Homo sapiens: one gene and its partners. The protein of the gene in region 2 interacts with the protein of the main gene of each other region in a biochemical or structural test. Each region holds a gene or a part of one and is shown on either strand. Other genes may lie near its edges. The genes, in order: NOLC1, KBTBD8 and TCOF1.

The links.
Region 1: the proteins of KBTBD8 (region 2) and NOLC1 form a complex in vitro, tested with the Homo sapiens proteins (2 studies listed by BioGRID).
Region 3: the proteins of KBTBD8 (region 2) and TCOF1 form a complex in vitro, tested with the Homo sapiens proteins (2 studies listed by BioGRID, with this or other methods).

What each region holds. Positions count from the first base shown.
Region 1 is NC_000010.11:102,147,423-102,155,478, reverse strand, and holds the start of NOLC1 (nucleolar and coiled-body phosphoprotein 1), read right to left. Parts: upstream 3,091-8,056; 5' UTR 3,069-3,090; coding exon 2,949-3,068; intron 1-2,948. Other genes in the region: PPRC1 (peroxisome proliferator-activated receptor gamma coactivator-related protein 1), read right to left, coding at 5,450-5,553, 6,150-6,301, 6,541-6,662, 6,785-6,851, 6,958-7,107. UniProt on the Homo sapiens protein: Nucleolar protein that acts as a regulator of RNA polymerase I by connecting RNA polymerase I with enzymes responsible for ribosomal processing and modification.
Region 2 is NC_000003.12:66,994,302-67,001,384, reverse strand, and holds the start of KBTBD8 (kelch repeat and BTB domain-containing protein 8), read right to left. Parts: upstream 3,079-7,083; 5' UTR 3,030-3,078; coding exon 3,014-3,029; intron 2,405-3,013; coding exon 2,194-2,404; intron 1-2,193. UniProt on the Homo sapiens protein: Substrate-specific adapter of a BCR (BTB-CUL3-RBX1) E3 ubiquitin ligase complex that acts as a regulator of neural crest specification.
Region 3 is NC_000005.10:150,353,021-150,360,753, reverse strand, and holds the start of TCOF1 (treacle protein), read right to left. Parts: upstream 3,058-7,733; 5' UTR 3,008-3,057; coding exon 2,900-3,007; intron 1-2,899.

The DNA of each region.
Region 1 (8,056 bases), on a different chromosome or scaffold from region 2:
GGCCAAGGCAGGAGGATCACTTAAGGACAGGAGTTCAAGACCAGCCTGGGCAAGACAGTGAGACCTCCATCTCTCTCTCTCTCTCTTTTTTTTTTTTTGAAATGGAATTTCGCTCTTGGTCGCCCAGGTTGGATTGCAATGGCACTGCGGTTGCTTGGCCTGTGGTGGCTAAACGCCTGTAATCCCAACACTTTGTGAGGCTGAGGCGGGTGGATCATCTGAGATCGGGAGTTCGAGACCAGCCTGACCAACATGGAGAAACCCCGTCTCTACTAAAAATACAAAATTAGCTGGGCGTGGTGGCGCATGCCTGTAATAATCCCAGCTACTCAGGAGGCTAAGGCAGGAGAATCGCTTGAACCCAGGAGGTGGAGGTTGTGGTGAGCCGAGATTGCACCATTGCACTCCAGCCTGGGCAACAAGAGCGAAACTGTCACAAAAAAAAAAAAAAAAAAATTAGCCAGGTGTGGTGGTACATGTCTGTAGTCCTAGCTACCCCAGTGACTGAGGCAGGAGGATTGCCTGAGCCCAGGAGTTCGATGCTACAGCGAAGTATGATTGCATCACTTTACTCCAGCCTGGGCGACAGAGTGAGACCCTCTAAAAGAAACAAACAAACACAAAACAATACACAGAAGAGTACAGGATCAGGCCAGGTGCAGTGGCTCACGGGCCTGTAATCCCAACACTTTGGGAGGCTGAGGTGGGTGGATCACCTGATCAGGAATTTGAGACCAGCCTGGCTGGTATGGTGAAACCCCATCTCTACTAAAGATACAAACATAAGCTGGGCGTGGAGGCGGGCGCCTGTAATCCCAGCTATTTGGGAGGCTGAGGCATGAGGCTGAGGCACAAGAATCGCTTCAACCTGGGAGGCAAAGGTTGCAGTGAGCTGAGATTGCACCACTGCACTCCCGCCTGGGCAACAGTGAGACTCTGTGGTCCAAAAAAGAGTAAATGATCAGAGTCAGTACAGATGGGAACTCACCTTTGGACAAATTACCTTATCTCCCTGAGATTATTTTCTTTTCTATAAAATGGAGATAATACTACACATCTCATTAAGTTATTGAGAGGATAAGACATAATGCATGTTGGCCGGGTGCGGTGGCTCACACCTGTAATCCCAGCACTTTGGGAAGCCGAGGCAGTAGATTCTTGAGGTCAGGAGTTCAAGAGCAGCCTGGCCAACATGGTGAAACCCCGTCTCTACTAAAAATACAAAAAAAAAAAAAAAAAATTAGCCAGGCATGGTGGGGCACACCTGTAGTCCCAGCTACTTGGGAAGCTGAGGCAGGAGAATCACTTTAGCCTGAGAGGCAGAGGTTGCAGTGAGCTGAGATCGTGCCACTGCACTCCAGCCTGGGCGACAGAGCCAGACTCCGCCTCAAAAAAAAAAAAAAAAAAAATTAAATGCATGTGAAGGGCGTAGCATCTGACCCTTAGTTAGCTCTTCACAAAGATTAGCTTTTCTCACATAAAACCATTTCAGAATCCTAATCCTGAGGCCGGGCACGGTGGCTCGCGCCTGTAATCCCAGCACTTTGAGAGGCTGAGGCAAGTGGATTTCTTGAGGTCAGGAGTTCAAGACCAGCCTGGCCAACATGGTGAAACCTCATCTCTACTAAAAATACAAAAATTAGCCGGGCGTGGTGGTACGCGCCTGTAATCCCAGCTACTGGGGAGGCTGAGGCAGGATAATCACTTGAACTTGGGAGGCGGAGGTTACAATGAGCCGAGATCGCACCATTGCACTCCAGCCTGGGCAACAGAGACTCCGTCTCAAAAAAAAAAAAAAAAAAAAAAGAATCCTAATTCTGAAATGTCCAATTCCATCCAGTCCACTGTGAAAGCACTCTCCGCAGTCTCCTTAACAGTCAACTCTAAACAGTTTCATTAAGAAAGCAGTTAGATCACATGGCAGCCTGTCCCAGCTTAAGGAAGTTTTGAGGCTGATCTGATTCTTTGCTTTCGCAGCCTGATTCTGCTAAAAGTGCAAGCCATCCTTCCTAGTCATGCTATCATCCCTGCTGAAGACCCCCCCTCTCTCCTCTCTCAAAGTGTCTTCCCATGCAGGAATGTCCGTTGATGTAGATTACAAACCTTTCACATTCCTGGTTCTCTTACTCTTACATGTGTTTGGAGCATCCTAAATTGCCATAACTATGGTACAGCTTTCACTTTTACAAGATTCCTCTGTACCAGCACTGAGATTGCTACTCTTACACATCATCTTACTGAAACTCACAAAAATCCTATAAAGTGGATGATGACATCCCTGTAGAAAGACTCAGAAAGGTTAAATAAACTGCCCGGGTCACGTATCTAAAAAGTGGCAGAGCCTGGTCCCAAACCTAGGTTTGTTTGATTCAATTAGCCAAAGCTCCAAGCCCACTACTATGCCTACTTGGTAGGGCTGTTGATGACTCTCAATTCTCAGTGTAACTCAAAACAAAACTCTGCTTCTACTTTCATTCATTTTCTTCTTTACAAACGAAAATCCCAGACTTCATTCTAAAGAAATTTCACTTGCTTTTGAATCCCAGTAAATGTGACTGAGGCTAAGGTCAAATCACGGTTTGCCTCACCCAACGAAAAGCCCCCCAGAAGATGCCGAAGAACCAACGTCCTCAGTGGAACAAGACTCTACCTCCCCGCTGCACTCTGCCAGCCATGTGGCTTGGGGCCACGAGGCTCCCACGCTGCCGCCGCTGCACAGGTCACAAGAAAAAAGCAACAAGACTCAGCGATATCTACTCAGACATGGAGGAAGGTAAGCGACCGAGGCCGCAGGCTTTCTCTGGTCACTGCCGAGGGGTCGGCGTAAAGGCCTTGCAGACACTGGACTGGCGGACCCCCAGACTTCCCCACCTGGAAACCTAAGCACGTCAGGGCCTGAAGCCTTGTGGTCATCTCAGCCCGGTCCCCGCCCCAAGCCCGGAACTCACAGCTCCTGTCGCTTTGGCGAACTTATTGGCCACCTCTGAGAGTTGGTTATCGCGCAGGAAGCCGAGCACGAGGGGATACAGGTCGCTGGGAACCACGCGGCGAATGCCGGCGTCCGCCATCCTCCAGGCAATACGCGTCACTACCGTTGTCGACGCAGCACGACTCAGGAACCCAACAGGGGCAGTGGGCGGGCCTGTGTTACGTCATTGCGCCGCGCGGGCGCATAACGGAAAGGGTGGGCTCCACAGGGCAGTCCCACCTTCACCTCAGAGGTAGGGTAGACGGGAAATCTATAAACTCTTTCCGGTCCCACGCGTATCGCCATCTTGGTTAAGGGCGGAGCCCACCGGCCGCCAGCTTGTGGAGGCGGAGCTCTGACGTCAGGGATCACGCCCTCGGCGTGGCGGGAAAACTCGGGACTTCCCGCGCAGTCTTTCTGGGGGAGGTACCTTTTCTCAGAGCAGCGGTTTCCCGCGCCCCTGCTGGGACTCGGATTCCAGAGTAATGAGTGGACAAGCGGGCTCGAACAGTTGTTCTACAAGATCTCCCAACCGCCCCCATGGCGTACTGGCACGGCCAATGGATTCTCGCCCTTCATCTTCACTGCCTCCAATACCCAGGGAGGCCCTTTCTGATACCATCCCAGCCTCCAGACTCCTGCCTCTGCTGCAGAAGATCCTTCGGGTTATCCGTCGTGAGGGTGGGAGGTGTTGATTTCCCAAGCTGCCCCTCCCATCTCCCTTATATTCCGCCTTAGGTCAGCTCCATGAAGAGGAAAGGTGTCATGCACCAAACCTGAATCACACACAGCAACAATCTATTCAAGCTGAAGAGATTGTTGAAAATAACCCTTCTTCCTCCGGGATCAGAGTTCACACTCTGCCTTTGTCATGAGTAACTCCAGTATCAATGCCTTTGTCATGAGTAACTCCAGTATCAATGCTCAGACCTACCAAGTTAATTCCAAGTTCTGCCACATTCCAGATATTAGCAGTTAGCAATCCCTTCAATCCTACCCACTACCCCTTGGCTACCTCCCACTAATGCCGCTCAGGAAAGATAAGGATCCTCATGGGAACACACCCCCCTCTCCTATATAAAATTGGCCAGGCATAGTGGCTCACAACTGTTATCTCAACACTTTGGAAGGCCTAGGTGGGAGGATCCCTTGAGCCCAGGAGTTAAGAGGCCAGCCTGGACAACACAGTGAAACCCCCCTATCTCTACAAAAAATTTTTAAAATTAGCCAGGTGTAGTGGCATGCACCTGTGGTCCCAGCTACTTGGGAGGCTGGGGCAGGAGGATCAACTGAGCCAGGGAGGTCAAAGCTGCAATGAGCTATGATCCTGCCACTGCAATCCAGCCTGGGCCACAGAGTGAGATCCTATCTCAAAAATCAAAAACAAAGCTGGGCACGGTGGTTCATGCCTGTAATCTCAGCACTTTGGGAGGCTAAGGTGGGTGGATCACCTGAGGTCAGGAGTTCAAGAACAGCCCTGGCCAACATGGTGAAACCCTGTCTCTACTAAAAATACAAAAAAAATTAGCCAGGCATGGTGGCGGGTGCCTGTAATCCCAGCTACTCAGGAAGCTGAGGCAGGAGAATCACTTGAACCCGGGAGGCAGAGGTTGCAGTAAGCCAAAATCGTGCCACTGCACTCCAGCCTGGGAGACAGAACAAGACTCCATCTCCAAAACAAAACAAAAAAATTCAAAAACAGAAACAAAAAACTCCACAGTTCCCTCTTCCCCACGCTTCCTGTTCTACCCACATGCATGCATTATTTAAAACATTTGAGCACCTGCTGTGCCATGCAGTGTGCTCAAGCTATTATAAAATGATGAACATAACTGACATGATGAATGTATACACCTGTCGCAGTTTAGAAAACCTTTCTTTGGAACAAGTGTGAGCTTCTCTAGGTCCTTGTTATCAAAATCCCTTCCTGGACCAGTATCATCATCCCATTGTCAGAATCTACATTCTAAAAAGATCGCTAGATGATTCAAATTCCCTTTAAAGTTGAGAAGCACTGTCCTAAATGACTCATTTTAGACAATACATCTGAGGAACCAAGGTTCAAATCCAGTGGGATTTTTGCACCTGACCAGGGAGAGGCATGTCCCTGGACCATGTTCAGATAGGAAAAGTGAATACATTTGGCATTAGCACCATATAAAGACGCACAACAGCAGTTGGGAGTTCTCTCTAGTTGATGTTTATTAGTCTGCATAGTGACTTATGTTCCAAACACTGGGGATCCCCTCAGCCCCTCCTATCTTACATAGGAATGCAAGTTAACTTGTTTCAATACCTGTTATAAAAAAACAAATACCCCTTTTAAAAAATCTGATTCAACATATTTTTTATTTCACTTTTTTCCATTTCTTTATAAAACAGTCATCTCACTAGCAGCTCTCTCCCCTAGAGTAGGGGAAGGGGGTGGAGGAGGTTGGGCACCTCCAAAGGAGAAAAAGGATAGCAGGGAAGGGCCCAAGGTTACCTCCTGAGGTTCTTCTGGGCCTGTTTCAACAATGTGTCAAAGTCAAGAGAATCAAATTTGCTCTTTACAGGTGCTGGGTCAAAGTCTTCCCGGTTGGAGTCTATAAAGGTAAAGACAAACTTCAAGGTCTCTGACCACACTTCCCAACCACAGGGTCTGCAAATGGCTAGCTATCTCCCATCCCAAAAACGGATGGAGTGAAAACTGCTCTAATTTTAAGTCAAAGAGATAGGAGAGTCCCCAGTCCCCATTTCTCCTCTCGTCCCACCCCTTGGGTCTTTTTTTTTTTTTTTTTTGAGACAGTCTCGTTCTGTAGCCCAGGCTGGAGTGCAGTGTTGTGATGTCAGCTCACTGCAACCTCCGCCTCCTGGGTTCAAGCAATTCTCCTGCCTCAGCTTCCCGAGTAGCTGGGATTACAGGTGCGTGCCACCACCTCTAGCTAATTTTTTCTATTTTTGGTAGAGATGGGGTTTCATCATGTTGGCCAGGCTGGTCTCGAACTCCTGACCTCGTGATTTGCCTGCCTCAGCCTCCCAAAGTGCTGGGATTACAGGCGTGAGCCACCATGCCCAGCCCCCTTGGGTTCTTTGTATGTCAAACTAAGGTAAGTCTGCCTAGCCCCACTCACAAAGGGTTAGGAACCCTTCTGGGGAGGGGATGAAGCATTCCAAAGCTTTAGGCCCTCCCTCCACTCACCAAGATCAGAATAGCTCCTCTTGCAGAACTGCCTTCGGCCCCCAAAGCAGAGATCAAAGGGCTGCTCATCTGCCTGCCGCAGCTTGTGGCCACTCTCAATGGCTGCAAATGCCTCCTCAGCATAGCGATAAGTGACGAAGCCGTAGTTGTCCCTAGTAGGAGGAGAGTGAGGCAGGGGCTGGAGTGGCTATATGGGCCCATGCCATAGAGGAGACACAGCATCCCAAGGTACAGAGGTGGTTCTTCTCATTCCCAGTGGCCAACCCTCTGACTGCAGAAATGAAGGTGCCCCATATTGCTCAGCACACCAGAGCAAGGAGGCAAGACAAAGAAACACCAAGGTAGATGAATGGGATAGAAAGAACATCCTGAGCCTGGGGCCCAAGCTTACCCTTGGACACGGAAGTGGATGGTGCACTCCTCAATCTCTCCAAAAACGGAGAACCTCTGTTTCAGCTCTGATCGAGTCATGCGGCCAGGTATCTTTCCAATGAAGACCACCCTTCTTTCTTCCTATGTTTGGAAATGAAAAAAAATCAACACACCATTAGCCAGGGCTACAGCTGCAGGCAGCTCTCTGAGCTCAAGGCTCAGGGGGTAAGCCCCATCCTCCCATGATCTGTTCCTCTACTCACTATTGCACGCTCCTTTTGTAGCACTCTTTGCCTTTGGTAATGGTCATGTGAACGATAAGAGCTGTACCTGACAAAAGAGGGTGTCATCAGCCCCCCAAACATAAGACAATTCAAGACTCAACTCTTAGGCACCTGCATCCCAGGTGCATGGCGCTCCCTGAACACATGCTCACCGCCGCCTCCTGTCACTTCTCCGGCGGGGGGATGGGGATCGTGAGCGGCTTCGAGAACTGGATGATGAGGATGAGGAAGACGAAGAGGAAGATGATGACGAAGAAGAGGAAGAGCATCTTCGAGAACGTCCAGAGGAACTACAGCTGGACCTGAAGGATAAGAGGGCATGCAGGAATGCTGGGAGTGGTTCAGGTATACTCTGCTTATCTCACCCAGGCCCCAGTCCTGCCTTTCTTTTAGGAAGCTCAGGACCAAAGACAAAGCAGAGTAGAAGAGGTCTAGAAGAACAATTTTCATTCAGAGATGAACAAACTGAGGCCCTTCATGGAACTTTAGGTGTACCTGGAATGTTGTGAAGTGTTTTGGAAGAGATCACATTTTCAATTGTGCACTTAAAAATTGAAAAATATTTAACAAATCAGAAAGAGGAAGAACAATAAATGGAGACTCAGGGAGAGGGGTGAGCCCTAGGTCTCACACCCAGCTATCTGTGGTGCTGGGGCCAAGCCTGGGTCTTTTGGGTTACTATTGCTCCCCTACCAGGTCTCACTGAAATACTGTGACCATGAGAGAGGTTAACTGCTAGACTTGTAGTATGGGCCAGTTCTGAAGACATATATCATCTCCAAAACCCAAGAATTCTTCATTAAGTGGGAAAACTTGGTTACTGAGAAAAAAAGATACTGCCAGGAAATAGATGAGGCCATAGTGACACCCAAAGGAACTGCCCCAGACACCTTCCTCAGCAGATGATTAAGGGAAGAACTATTTTCTATTAACAAGTAACCCACTACCTCACATAGCGCCCAGAATACCAAAAATGAAGGCTGATACAGTATGTGAAAAAAATCAACATGGTCAAAATCAAACCCTAAAAGTCTCCCCAAGGCAGGTCTCAAAGAAGCAGGAGACCTGACACCCCAAGCTCCAACAGGGGACAGAAGCAATTGTCTCACAGCTTGCCTCCTTCAACAATCCAGGAAAAGGGAAAACACAAAAGCCAAAGTCAGAAATAGAAGCCTTAGCGCCTGAAAGTACCAAAGTCAACGGGTAAAAGCTTTCAAAGTAAACCACAGAAGTACGTGAACTTCCTAAATG
Region 2 (7,083 bases):
CTAATAATCATACAAATTTCAATTCTGATGAGTTACTGGTATCATGAAACAGCCATTCCAGATTTCCAGCCGTTCTAATTCTTCCACTAGTGATGCAAGACGTAGAAACATTAAGTACGATTTTCTACATCCCACACAGGAAGCAGCGCTGGTACCAAGAAACTTCAGTACAAAAACCTCTAGCAAGAGATCAAATTCTAATCCTTGAGGTTTCTAGCCAAATATCTTTATTTCAATGCACATATCGTATCCCCAGAAAATTTCTCAAGTATTTTTTACTCCTTTTAAAAATTGACTTAACAAAATTAAAGAATTTAAGATTTTAAGGAATCAAGAAAATTAGAAATCTATCATAGCATACTTCTTTTAAAGTAAAATTTTTTTCCAGGTCTTCAAAAATAAAAAATGAAACTGCAAGGTGAAAATGTCATACTTATGTAAAGTTACTAATAAGTATACTTACTAAGTATTATACTTAATAAGTATACTTAATATGTATACATATATCATATTTATTATGTATGCTTACTAAGTATTATACTTAATAAGTATACTTAGTAAGCATACATAAGTATGACATTTAAATGATATAATCCAGATTATTAAATTTCAGTAAGATATAGACATTTTTACTTTGCAGTTTTTGTTTTGTTTTGTTTTGTTTTTGTTTTTACTATTCAAATGCAATATACAATAAAAATGTTTTAAAGGAAACTGTACCAACTCTTGTTCCTTAAGAGTCATATGGCTACTAAGAAGCCTGGCTCTGTAATCAAATGTAGCCTCTGCCATTTACTTGTTGGATAGATGATTTAGGCAGGTTATTAAAACTCAATCTCACTGAGCCTCAGCTTCTTCATAAGTAAAATGGAACAACAACTATGCAGAGATAGGATTATAAAGATTATATAAGGCAATACATGTAAAGTAAGCTTAGCCTAGAGCTTGATAAGTAGTAACTGTGACATATATTTAAACATACAAATGACCTAACCATATCTAATAGATAATCTGGGTAAGTGAATCTCACTAGAAGTTTCCATTACCAGGCCAAACTTCATACCTTCTGCATATGTGAGTTTTTTTTTCTTTCCAGCTCACTGTCTTGCGATGATTAATACTTAGTAGTCCAATGACCTACCCTAGGCAAGTCTAAACGGTTACATCACAAGCATCAGACTGAAGTGACTATATTTAACCCAGTATTCTGAGAAAGAGGAACCAGAAACTACTGTTGGAACATTATATGGTTATGTGCCCTATAAAGGTAAGCACCTTCAAAAGGAAAAATCACATTCAGAGTGTGGTTGATAACTTTACTATTATTTATGCACCACTTGTGAATACTGAAAGGCTTAAAGTGAGCATTTGACACAAAAGAAGTTAAGCCCATGCAGAAAACTGCCTTTTCCACTCATCTTAAAGTAGGAAGTTATTTTTCAGACCCAAGTTTTTAAATTTTACTTTTAAAAGTTTTATAGTAGACAATATAAGTAAAAACAAAAACTTCGTTTAACATACTTCTAGAAATCTTGGATATTATTAATTTGGGGCCTTAGGCACAAAGAAACTATATTCATTCTTGCTTTGACCCCCATAGCATTTAAACAATCTATTGAGTGGTAATTTGTTTTTGAAGGAACATGCTACATGTTTTAAACTATTTTATAAAAGAGTCCCATACACTAAAGAAACATGCATTATGGATAACTTTTTGAAAGAAATTCTAGATCAGCACTGTCCAATAAAATTGTCAATGATGAAAATGCTGTATTTCTGTGCTGCCCAATATGGCAGCCACTAGCTGCAGGTGACCAGCAAGCACTCAAAAAGTATTTAGTGTACCTGGGGAACTAAATGTTTTATTTTATTTAACTTATAATTTAAGTTTAAACAGCCACACATGGCTACTGGCTTCCATACTGACCAGCACAAGTCTAGATTTTCTGGTCATTTACCTCAAACACACACACACAGGCCCACTAACTTAAAAAGCAATCACCCGAAATCTAGAAGAATCCCTCAAGTCAAAAGAAGGTCTTAGTTAAGAGAGGACTTGTTTTCTAGTCTCAAGAAACAAAGTCATTGGTTTCATTTCATTATCGCATCTCAATATAAACATCAAGTGGACAATACTGAGGGGGAAAGGGAGCTTGGTGCAGATACCAACAGAAGTTCCTACCATCATCATACCTGAAGTAAGGGCTGATTGCAGCAAGAACGTTTCTATGACAGGAAAATGTTTTCCCGTGATCCACTTCCACTACAATGTCTGTCAACTGTCCTTCATCGTACATTGTTTTGAGTTGCTTAAGAATACTGCAAGCATGGAAGGGGTCCATGGCATCGCTGGCTGGGTCTGAAGATGGAATCCCATTCGGTGTTGGGGAAGACTTACTTAAATCTAGGAGGAGAAAAATCGTACAACTACAAGAAGTGCCGAGCCAGTTACGGCATCGCGGGATTTTTCTGTTTGTGTGTCTGCTTGCTAGGCTTTTTCCCCCTACAAGATATATACAAATGTCTGTGGATATACGCACGACCTCGTGGGACCGCGAGTTAAGGATCTGGGAGACAGAGGGCGGAGCGCGATCGGCGGAACAAGTTCAAAGGCCAGCCTGCTCCTGCGGAGCCCGGCGAGCCCGGCACCCGTGCTCGCGGAGGAAACGCGCTCGCAGCCCAGGAGAGGCGTCTGCGCGGACTCCGCCGAGAGCCGAGGGCAGAGCCTCACGAGGGAAGCTCGAACAACGGCGGCCGCCGGTGCCCCCTCAAGCCGCCTCCCGCTGCCTCCTGGGGCGCAGCGCCGGCGGGTACCCAGCCTCCCCATCCCGGTCCCGCCGGACCGCCCACCGCCCTCCGCACCATTCATCCTCCCTCTTCTCATTCCCCTCCACCGCTTCATCCTTCCCTCTAGCTCCGCACCGCTACGTCCTCATCCCACTGCCTGTGGCCGGCCCCGGCCCACCTTCCCCCTCACCTCCCTCCACGCCGCCCTGGCCACCACACGACCCACCTGCCGACGCGGCCATTTCTCGATGGGGCCCCGACTCCAGCTATTTAAAAAGGAAATGTCATTTCGCTTCTCTAGCTCCCGGGTTCCGGCTCTTCTAAGCTTCCCCTGGCCAATGGGGTGTCCTGTGCATCTGGCTCCACCCCTAGCCTCCGAATTCCTGGCGCTGATTGGCCACGACGCGAGCACATGCGTGTCGGGAAATGTAGTTTGATTGCCCCGGCTCCCGCGTGGTCCGGGTCGGGCGGAGGCCCAAGCCGGGAATTCCTATTGGCTGATTCGGATGGAGGTGGAGAGCAGGGAGCTGGCCAGCCTGTGGCCGTCGAGCGCGCAGTGCCTGCCGGGAGAGGTAGTCTTCTGGCGGAGGAGAACTGTCATTCTGAGGGGCTGGGGTAGGGAAAGCTCTTCAAGTGCGAATTTCCCCATTTTAGGCCTCTCTCCTGGCCCCCGGCACATTTTTTTACCTTTTTCTTCTTCCGTAAACTTCCTGCCAGTGACTAGCTTCCGGTATGAAATCAAGCTCTGCGTGAGAGCTGTAAAACCAGAAAAATGTGGAAATGGACAGGAGGGCTGTTGTCCAAAAATGCAAAGGAAATCTGACGTCCCACCCTGAAGAAAAATATCACAAGGCCCAAAAGCAAGGCGTCTCTGATGAGTCACCTATGACACCCAATTGAAATAGCATCGCCTTGGCCGGGTGCTCTGGTTTCCACAGATTAACTTGGTCTGGTTACAGCGGCTGCTTAGGATCTTCAACTCCCACTGGTGCCTTGCTTTTCTAGCACACCCAGAGAACACCTGTTCCTCACGTGAACATTACAAGGGGATCCAAGATGCTTTACTTTTTGCTCTTGGGAAATGGAGGGGATACAATACTAAGTATTCCGGAATTTCCTTTGAAAAAATACCGGAATGCCCTGAGCCCGGAGCCAGGGATGATTACTGAAGCCCTGGCTCTTTAGTCACTATATGTGAGAACTGACATAAGACCTTTCAACCCCTGAGCGCTTAGATCCTTCATCTGTAACGTGAAGTAATAGTAATCCGTACTCCATGGATTTCATAGGCTGCAACCTTTTGGAAAGAAAATCAAAATTTTACTGTTGACGAATTTTTATTTACTCATCTTGTGTTTCTAACATCTAACGGGGTGCCTGGCACATTATAGATGTTTCATATTTTAAAAATAAATGTAAGGTGCAAATGAGCTAACATTGGGAATGCTATTTCTAGATGTTAAAATGTAAGGAAGTATCAGCGAATGGGAAGAATTTCTAGTAGACATATAGTTAGCCCGTGTGCATAACTTTTCTAGCACTGAAAAGATCAAACCGTTGAACTTCTTGATAAAGAAAGGATCTTGGAATTTAAATTGTGATTGAGAAAGAGAAATAATTATGAAAAACAATTCAGTTCTGTCTTCTAGGTCTGCTGAGAAATTTAGAACTTAAAATACTATAATCCCATGCAAGTTAACAGGAAGTGGTGTTTCCTCATGACTGGGGTTTCTGCATATACATATGCACTTATAATTTCTTCTTTGTGAATGTCCTGTATGCACGTTTCTGGATAGATGAAATTGACTTAATTTTGGTTACTCATAACTTTATTTTTTCGTTTTTATGATGTTGCTTTCTAATTTATTAAAATGGTAGCACTTTATGACAATATGGTTAGTATTGAGGAAAAAAATGGCGTTAATCCTTAGGGTTTGACAACATCTGACGATATTGCAAATAAAAATACAGGGCATGCATTATTTGAGAAATATTTAAACTGAAATATCATTTGTTGTTTATCTGAAATTTAAATTTAATTGGGTGTTCTGTATTTTATCTGGCAACCTTTTCAAATCTGTTAAAATAGAGGAGTTTTGTTTGTGCTTTGTTGTTGTTTTGTAGCCATCTATCTATTTAAGCCTTAAGAAACTTGGCCAATTTTTTAAAAATTCAATTCTCAACTTAGTAACAAACAGACTTGACAATATTGTTTGATTAGTGAGAAGACAGTGTTCTGATTCTTTGACCCACAAAGATTTATAAATTGGAGATGCAGCAGAATACAAAGAACAAAAGCCAATCTAAAAATAAATAGAAAAAAAATTATAGGTAAAAAGTTGCCATTTATATGACACTGTAAATGGACTCCATTCTACTGGGCAGATGGCATTACATAGTAAAGATTTAATCATCACTAAAATGCATTTTTAAAAAACACAGAATATGTAGGAGGATCTCGAAATTCAGTCAGTTGTACCACAACAATTCTTTCTCAATGATCTGTAAGAATACTGGGGAGATTCCTTTTCAGGATTGATACTAAATAGCCAAAGGTTACAGCTTTGTTTTCAAACACCTCTAATTTGAATTTTAGTAAAAACCTCCTGAATCTACTGCACATCTGGAAAGAGCAGCAAAAGTAAACCAGTTTTCATCTTAAGGTATTAAGTACTATATTGCAATTTACTCCTATATTTAAAGTTTAAAGTAAAATCAATTAAGGATGGAAACTGAAAAACTGAACCAGAATATTTGAAGGTCCTATATTTAGTTCAAATTAGACACTTAGAGCTTTATTATTTTAATATTTTTTTTTACCTAGGAATCACAAGCAAAGAGAATTGCTATAATCATGGTTGCTTGAGAGAAGAAAAGTTTTTACGTTTAAATTCTAGCAAAAATGAAGGATTATGAAAGCATCAAATTTGGAAAATGAGAAATTGAAGGCTCCTTGTTTTTTTCTGCTTTCATTTCAAGAGAATGACTTTTAGCAATTATCAGCTATACCCAGGCTACTCTCAATAATACCACACAACACAAGAATGATAGCAACTCTGATGAAGAAGGTGTAAAAGAAAATAGAACTTCACTTCTGCAAATCAATTCTGCAGTTTTCCAATTTCCCTGTTCAGTACTGGTTGGGGCTGTGAAATTGACCAGAGCTATATAAAATGAAAGTAAAGACAGAATACTTGAAACTCATACCTTTTAGCAACTGACATCCTTATATATTTATACTTCTCAGCCTACAGCTACAACCTTCTTGATATTTTCAATGTGACTTTTTTTTCTTGCTTAAAACTTCTGCATTGGCTAGATAAATGAAACAACAAAAGTGATTATTCAATATAAATTTAATATGACATCAGATACACAAAGTTTTTTAAAATTTCTAAAACTTTATATATTGCCCATGATTTAGTTTCTTTAAATACAAAACTCTAAATAGATACTAACATTAGGTTTACTGATTGGGCACCACTGGGCTTTGTTGTATTTTTAGTTTTTTATTCCCTTTGAGGTTATATGAGGATTCAACATGGTAATAACTAGAAGATTGCATTTCATGAATCACTGAATTTGATCATACTGGAGGATATTAATGTGCATTAATTTTTAAGTATTTGGAATTTAGCATATACATGAAAAAAAGACTTTGAAGCTAGTGGCAGTAATATTCAGTTCCTCAGAAATATTGATTGCCTCCTCCCACAACCTGCATTCTAAGAAGGCACTGTCTGAATCAATGTTTCCTATACAAAACTAGATAGATAGATAGATAGATAGATAGATAGATAGATAGATAGATAAAGATTAGATGGATGTAGAGATATGAGATTCCTAATCTCAAGGATCTTATGGTTTATCTGTGAAAATAAAACTTATTCCCATGAAAATCAACTAGAAAATGAGAACTAAGGGCAACCCCTAGTTAGCATAAAATAAGTATTTCCAACAATTAATATTAAGGATTTCGAAAGAGATAAGAAATTCTGTTCAGCTGGTGTGGGATTTAAGCTGAGCATCCAAAGAGGATACACCATAGAACTATTTGCAAAAGTGATGTGGAGTACTTTCTTGCCTAATTGCTTTATCTTGGCTTGACCCAGAAGGTAAAGCATTCACTTTAATATTGATAGGGCTTAATTTAGGAATAGAACAAGGAAAAGGAATTAATGGTTGTGTTACCTACTTTATTGCACTTAATTTCACCTTTTAATTAAATTTTCTAAGAACAAAGTTACAATGAAGTGACCAAAGCCTTGAGAATTTCAATAACCTGCCCGTAGTCTT
Region 3 (7,733 bases), on a different chromosome or scaffold from region 2:
AAAAAAAAAAAAAAAAAAAAAGAGGGTCTTTTTGCTCTGGGAAGTATGTCTGCTTGGCCCTGCCAGTTCTGTCCCAAACCTTCCAGAGACAAGAAGAACAACCAATCCCAACTAAAACCTTTTTAGACAACCCCTTTGAAAGGCCAGAGGTGGAATGTTCCAAGCTAGCATTCATCCAGCTCCCAGCCTCTCTGGCACTATCCATGCCTAGAGGCCATGAGACAGGGTTTTCCCCACCTTTGACCTTTAAAAAAGCTTTCAAAGACGTGGCCAGCCAATCTTCCCAAAGCACGAATCACAGCCCAGACACCTGAGGCATCCAGGTGGCATGACCACAGTCTACTAGTCTGCTGGGAGAAGACTGGGCCCAAATGGTACCAGTCCCTTGGTGGAAGCAGAGGGAACCAGGTGGAATCCAGGCCTTTGGAGCAGAGGCCAGAGGGCCCAATGTCTCTGTAAATGTCAATAAGCCAGGATATCAAGTACTCTAATGAGGCTAAGCAATGTGGGGCACGGGTGGACTGAACTAATCTCGTCACGTCTTCGAACTTCAGATTTCTTCTTAACATGGGGACAACAGCGATACCTACCTTGCAGGCTGCTATCTGGTTTGAACAAGACCATCTGTCAGTGCCCAGCAGTGAGCCGGTAACACTAAGATTTCAAGAGTCAGTTTCCCTCTGCTCCACCTCAGGCAAAGTGTCCTCCTTGCTGTCCTCAAATGTGTCAGGCCACCCTGCCTCTAACGCGGCCTTGCTATTCTTCTTGTCTGGAATGTTCTCTCCCCTGTTAACTACACAGCTCACTCCCTCATTTCCTTCAGGTCTCTGCCCAAATGACACCTTCTCAATGAGACTTCCTTGACTACCCTACTTATAATCGAAGTCTGACATCCCTTATCCCCCTTGCCTGCCTTTTATAGCAAGCACCAACTATCATTGGATATACTATATCATTAACTTATTAAACTTTTTCTATTTGTCACCTGTCTGCTCCTACTAGAATGTGTGCTCCATGACGGCAGGATATTTTGCTCCAATGAAGATGGGTACTATCTCTTGCTCCCCTTATCTGTGAAGTACCATAGCTGCGGTAGGAAGAGCAAGTGAGGTTCAGAGAAACTGGGAAAAGCATACATAACGTCTTAGGGCCCATCACCCTTTAGTCCCTCCAGGAGGTTCTGAGAGCAAGCATTAGGAGCAGAGCCTACACCACAGGGCAAAGGGATCTGACTACTTAGGATACTGTCTCACCAGTTCAAAACTCTCCATTGGTTTACCACTGCTCTTCCAAGGAAGATCAAACTGCCCACCAGACCACTCCAGCCAGCCCCTGCCTCCATCTCCCCAGGGGCATCTGGCCCTTGTACTTCACACTTCAGCCACTATGGACGTTTTTTTTTTTTTTGAGATGGAGTCTCGCCTTGTCACCCAGGATGGAGTGCAGTGGCTCAGTCTCAGCTCAGTGCAACCTCTGCCTCCTGGGTTCAAGTGATTCTCCTGACTCAGCCTCCCGAGTAACTGGGACTACAGGTGCATGCCACCATGCATGGCTAATTTTTGCATTTTTAGTAGAGACAGGGTTTCACCATGTCGGTCAGGCTGGTTTTGAACTCCTGGCCTCAAGTGATCCGCCTGCCTCGGCCTCCCAAAGTGCTGGGATTACAGGCGTGAGCTACCGTACCTGGCCTGCTATGGACTTAAAAAAAATTTTTTTTTGAGACAGTGTCTTGCTCTGTTGCCCAGGCTGGAGTGCAGTGGCATGATCATGGCTCATACTGTATCCTCAAATTCCTGGGCTCAAGAGAGTGGACTTTCTCCAGGCCAGTGTGTACACAAGTTCCCTCCCACCACAAGGCATTTACACCTCAGCTATTCCTGACCAGGGCAATCTGCCATCCATCTCTCTTTTTTTTTTGAGGCAGAGTCTCGCTTTATCGCCCAGGCTGGAGTGCAGTGGCACGATCTTGACTCATTGCAACCTCTGCCTCCCGGGTTCAAGCAATTCTTGTGCCTCAGCCACATGAGTAGCCAGGATTACAGGCGTGCGCCAACATGCCCAGCTAATTTTTGTATTTTTAGTAGAAACGGTGTTTCACCATGTTGGCCAGGCTGGTCTCGAACTTCTGACCTCAGGTGATCCGCTAGTCTCGGCCTCCCTAAGTGCTGGGATTACAGGCGTGAGCTACCGTGCCCGGCCCATCCCTCTCATTCTTAACACTTATTGCGGTGCTAAGCATATAGTCACTTTTGTGATTCTTTGATTTGTCTACCTTACTAGAGTGTAAGCTCCAGGAGGGCTGAGAGATGGTGCTCACCATTCGAACACCAGGAAGCACCCTGAGTACCGGATTAACAGTTGAATTAATCAAGTAAGAAATGACTGTACCACGAGTTCGAGTACCAAAGCTGACCGTCTCAGTACAGACAATCGCTAAAGGCCTGAGTTCCAGCTCAACTAAGAGGCTGTAGGGTCCCTTTTCCAGGCGCTCCCCCGAGGGGCTGGTCGCAATCCACCCCCGAGACTCGCAGCAACCTCCTTGCCCCAGGGGGGGCCGCGCAGAGCCTAGCCACGTGGCGGGAGACTTAGGAAACTTAAAATACCCGCTACCAGGAAGGGCGTGGAGGTAAGGGAAGCGGGAATTACAAAGTTCGGCCCCTGCGAGCACACTTTCTGGCCCAACCCACTGCCCGGATGAGGAAAGTGAGGCCCAGGGGAACTGAAGTCGCAGTGGGAAGGCAGAGATTGCGGCTCCTCCGGTACCCCTGGCCGCGCCGTCGAGCACTGCGGGACCCGGCTCCGGGCGCCTGCCGGGTCGCCTGGGGACGGGGCGCGGGCCGCGGGCCGCTGATCTCCACATCTTGCACGCGGCCCTCGCACACGGCCCACGAACGCTTACCTGGCCGCTCTGCTCCTTCACTTCCCGCGCCGCACGCACATAGCCAGCCCGCAGCAGATGGTGGTAGATCAGGGGAAGTAGCTCCCGCCGCTTCCTGGCCTCGGCCATACCCGCGACCCCCGGCCGGCCGGCTACCTGCACGCCCCGCCTTAGTCCCCGCCCGCCACTTCCCTCGCGCCCTTAGACCTCGCGCGCCACACTTCCGGCTCCTCTTTCGCTCCGGCCGCGCGGCGCGCCGGGAAACGTAGTCCCCTCTCCGGGAGTGGCCGGCCCCGCCCCTCAAGGCGAAGGGGGCGGAGACTCGTGATCAACAATACCGCCCATTGGCGCGGAGCATGCGGGGCTAGACAGGGACCCGCCCCCGGGGCCGGCCGGGACTTGGACGACTCTCTTTTAATCCTTCCGGCTGGCTTCTTGAAGAGATTTATCTTCCTTGTTAATTCTCTGATGGCTGGGTCTGCGTTTTACTCATCTCTGAACTCCCTAATCTGGATCTTTCTCTAGATCCGAACTTTGTACTGCCATTACCTGCTCATTTATCCATTTCGCACGGTTTTTGGTGCCCATGAACCAGACACGAATTGCCAGTTTATTCATTGATTCATTCGCTAACTGAACAAATCTGTAATAAGCACCTAACTTGGGCTAGCACCCGGCTAGGCTAGGGGGATTCAAAAGATGCATAATACATGGCAGTTGCCCTCAAAGCTCACAGAGACGACTGTCCGTAACCAAGCAACTATAGTTCAATATCTTGTGTGCCTTGTCAGGGACAGATGCAGCCTATGGGCGCCCCAAGGAGGAGCACCGAACCCCAGAGAGATATCTAAGCTGAGGCATAAAGACACCCGAAATTGCTGGGTGCAAAGGAGAGGACTGGCAGAGGGCACTGCATGAGTCTAGGCATGAGAAAACACCCTGCTATTGCCTGGGAACCCTAAACCCAGAACCCCTAGTCTGCGCTGCTGGGCTGTCCAGGTGGGGTGGGGTGAGGTGGGGAAGAGGGAACAAATGAGGGCACATGAGGATGAAGAAGTAGACAAGGCCTACAACTCCCCCACCCCCAACAGAGTTTGGACTTTGCTCTGAGGGCATTAGATAGTCTCTGACTGGCTTTTCCGAGGAGGTTGACCCTGTTTTGTGTTTTTAAAAGATTGCTAAAACCAAAGCACATACCATTAATACTAAATGTGAGGCTGTTGTAGTTGTTGAGGGAAGGATGGCAGGGAAAAGGTGAGGTAGGCTGGAGAATGTTAGAGTGAGCTGTTCTTAACTTCACCGACCCATTGAGAATCTGAGGGCAGCATGTTTCTTACGGGCGCAGGAGTCCCTAACCCTAGGAGGTCCAGGTATGTGGTTATCTTTGTCTTGAACTTGAATGGAAAATGTTATGTGTCTGTACACATTCAACATTTCCCATTTTCTTGAGCAAATATTTATTGAGTACCTACCATTGGGGATGGAATAGTCTCTACTCCTATAGAGCTTACAGTCTAGTGATGGAATTGTCTCTACTCCAATAGAGCTTACAGTCTAACGGAGGAGACACATACTAAACTAATAGTCATACAATACAGTGTTACAAACAGCGGGTAAGTGCAGGAAGGAAAAGGATAGTGTTTTCTTATGTAATAATATAGTGTTTAAAAGCTGCACTGGAGTCACACTGCCTGGGTTCAAATTCTGGCTTTGCCTCATTAACTAGGTGACTTTGGGCAAGTCACTGTGACTCAGTTTCTTTATCTGTACAATGGAGATAATTATAATTTCTACCTCACTGGGTTGTCATAAGGAGTAAATGAATTCTCAGCAGAAATGCTTAGAGGAGCTCTGAACAATAGCGCTCTCTGTGTGCGTGTGTGCTATTATTGTGAAAGCATATAACAGGAAGGAGGGATCTATTTTTTTCTTGGGAGTTAGGGAAGGATTCCCTGAGAAATTAATGGTTATGAGGAAACCAGAACTGTGTGTAAGGGAGAGTCAGAGAGAAGAAACCTGAGCAGAGGGAAGAACCTGTGCAAAGGGCCTAGGGCAGAAGGTACAGCTGAGAGAATAGACACAAAAAGGCCTTTGTAGCATAGTCCGGAGGGAGAGCAGGGGGACTGGGGAGTGTAGAAGGTGGGCAGAGGGCAGACTCCATGTGAAGGATTGGCCACATCAGGGTTTTTTTTCCTCCATCCTAAGAGCCATTGGAAGCCACTGACGGTGTAAGCCCAAGAGGTACAGGATGAAATCTGAATTTTACTGTGACCTGTGTGCCTGCCCAGTGGAGAGTGGAGTGTGTCTGGTGGGTATGAGTAGATGTGGGAAGACAAGTCAGGGTTAGGAGTGCAGGCAGGCATCCAGGGAGAAGACAGTGTATGTGGGGGGGGGGGGCGGGTGGTAGGTGGCGGGGGCAGCGGGGAGGGTGCTGGTGGCAGTGGAGTTGAAGAGAGTGGAAGGTTCCCAGAGTTAATCAGGAACTAAAGTTTTCACAGAGGTGTGTTGGAATGGGAGGGGAAGGAAAAGGCAATGTCAGAATGGACCTTGAGGTTTCTGTGCAAACAAGTAGGCAGTATTTTTCACTGAGATAGAAAAAACTAGAAGAGGACTGAGACAGGGGGGTGGTTTGATTGAGGAGAGGAGGATGTGGACAGAGAGGTGAAAGTATATATTCTATGTTAGACATCTTGAGCTTGAAATGCCTTACAGTCACCACATGCAGATGTTGAGAAGGTTCTTGGAAACCTGGGTTTGGACGTGGCGTGGAGGTCTGGGCTAGAGATGAAGATGAGAAGTTGTCGATAGACAGATGATAATTGCGGCTGTGGATGAGGAGAAGCTTACCCAGGGAGAAGAATGTGGAGAGAGAAGAGAGATGGCCCAGGATGAAGTTTTGAGGTACATCTACAGATTAGGGCTGTGTACAAAAGGATCTGCCTGCAAAGGCTGATCAGGAGTGGCTGGACAGCTTGGAGAAAGCCCAGGAGAGTGGGCTTATGGAAGGAGGCCAAGGGAGACATTTTAGAAAGCTGGGAAGACTTGATGGAGGGAATGCTCTGAGAGGTCAGATAGGAGGAGGGTGCAGCCCTGGGCTTTGGTTTATGGACAGGCGTGGAGATTGTTGGGGACTTAGGGAGGGCTATTTATGTGTGGCATGATGGAGGGGGTCAGATGGCAGTGGTCTGATGAGTGCAGGAGGGATGAGGGAGGCAGTGGGTCTTTCGAGAAGTTTTTGTATAAAAAGGACGAGAAAGATAAAGTGCTAGGGCCAATATGTATGTTAGGGGAGGTGTGTTTCAAGGTAGAAGAAACCTGAGATTTGTTTAAAAGTGAATGGCAGATCCAGGAGAGAGAGGTTAACCAAGAGTGTAAGAAATAGGGGAGATAATCAGCGAGTAAAGTTCTCTCAAGCATGTGCGAGGGGCTGGGATCAGGCATGTGGGTTGGGGGGGTTCGTCTTGGGGAGGAGGAGGGATGAGTTCTCTAGAACCCAAAAGCAGGAACAAAGAGAGGATGGGTGCAGATGTAGATGTAGGTTTATAGTGGGATGTTAAGGGAGATTTCATTTTGAGCTTCTATTTTTTCTGCAAAGTGGGAGGCAAGGTCTTCTGCTGAGAGTGAAGAAGAGGTGGTGAGGAGTTTGAAAGAATGATCATTCAGAGTGTTGAGAAGCAACTTGCCCACAAAATCCCCAATTGCCTGACAGCCTTGGCTCCCCAGTTGAGGTTGGTGGTCCTTAGTGTATGTGTGTCTCGTCCTGTCCTGCTGAGTGAATTCCTCCATCAGGGCTCACCTACCCAGCTGCAGGCTGGGGAGATGTATGTACATAGTGGGATTTATCCAGGCCTAGGGCTTTGCCAGATGGGTGGGGAAAAAAGGGCACAGGAGTCTAAAGTATTGGCAAAGAGATGCTAAAATTCTGGGTCCTGGGATCTACACTGGGTAGCGAGGGAAGCAAGGCAGATGGATGTTTGCAGGGAGAGAGTGGAATCCTTCACGGGCCAGGCCTTATGAGGGACCCCTGAGATCAGAGAGGGCTGGGAGCTGGAACTGGTGGTGACACCCAGGTTTCTGCTTGGGTGGCTGGATGGGTGATGAATGTACATGATGAGCATACAAACCATTGTAAGATCTAAGATTTTTTTCCACCAACACCTCCAGGAACCAGTTTTCATTTCCTCGAGGGCATCAAGGCCCCATTTGAGAATGCATGCCTTAGTAGAATGTAAACTCCCTGAAGGCAGACTTACCTTTGCCTTGTTGGTTGCATTATTTCCAACATTTTGCACAGTGCCTGCATACAGCAGGCACTTAATAAGTATTGGCAAGTGCAGGAATGGTTACAGACCTCTCCTGAAGAAGAAGGGAGGGCAGGGCAGGCAAGGTGCTCACTGAGTTTAGGCCTGGAGGCAGGAATGTGGAAGGCTTTGGAAGGCAGTGGGGAAGGAACTGGATTGTGCATCCTTGGCTGACCCTGGAAGAAATGCAGAACTGGAATTAAATTAAAGAACGAAAACAAAACCACACCAGGATTGTCTAATACCTTCTGTCTGGCAACAGGTTGTTTTTGTTTTGCTCCTAATAAAATTCATTGTCGGCACTTATGCTTTGTCCTCGGCTCCTGGGAGGCTGTCTCTTCTGTGGACAATTTCTTTATTTCCCTCATTTTCCAAATCATACCCTTCACTGAATTGCCTCAGGGCCCAAGCACAAAATTAGAACATTAAACTGATAAAATATAACATGGCAACTATTAAGACAGCAACAAACAAAACAGTGCATTAAAAAAAAAATTAGCCTCAGAGCATTTCTCTACCAGTAAGAGAAAATGCCTTTGTTAGTGGTAGAAGCC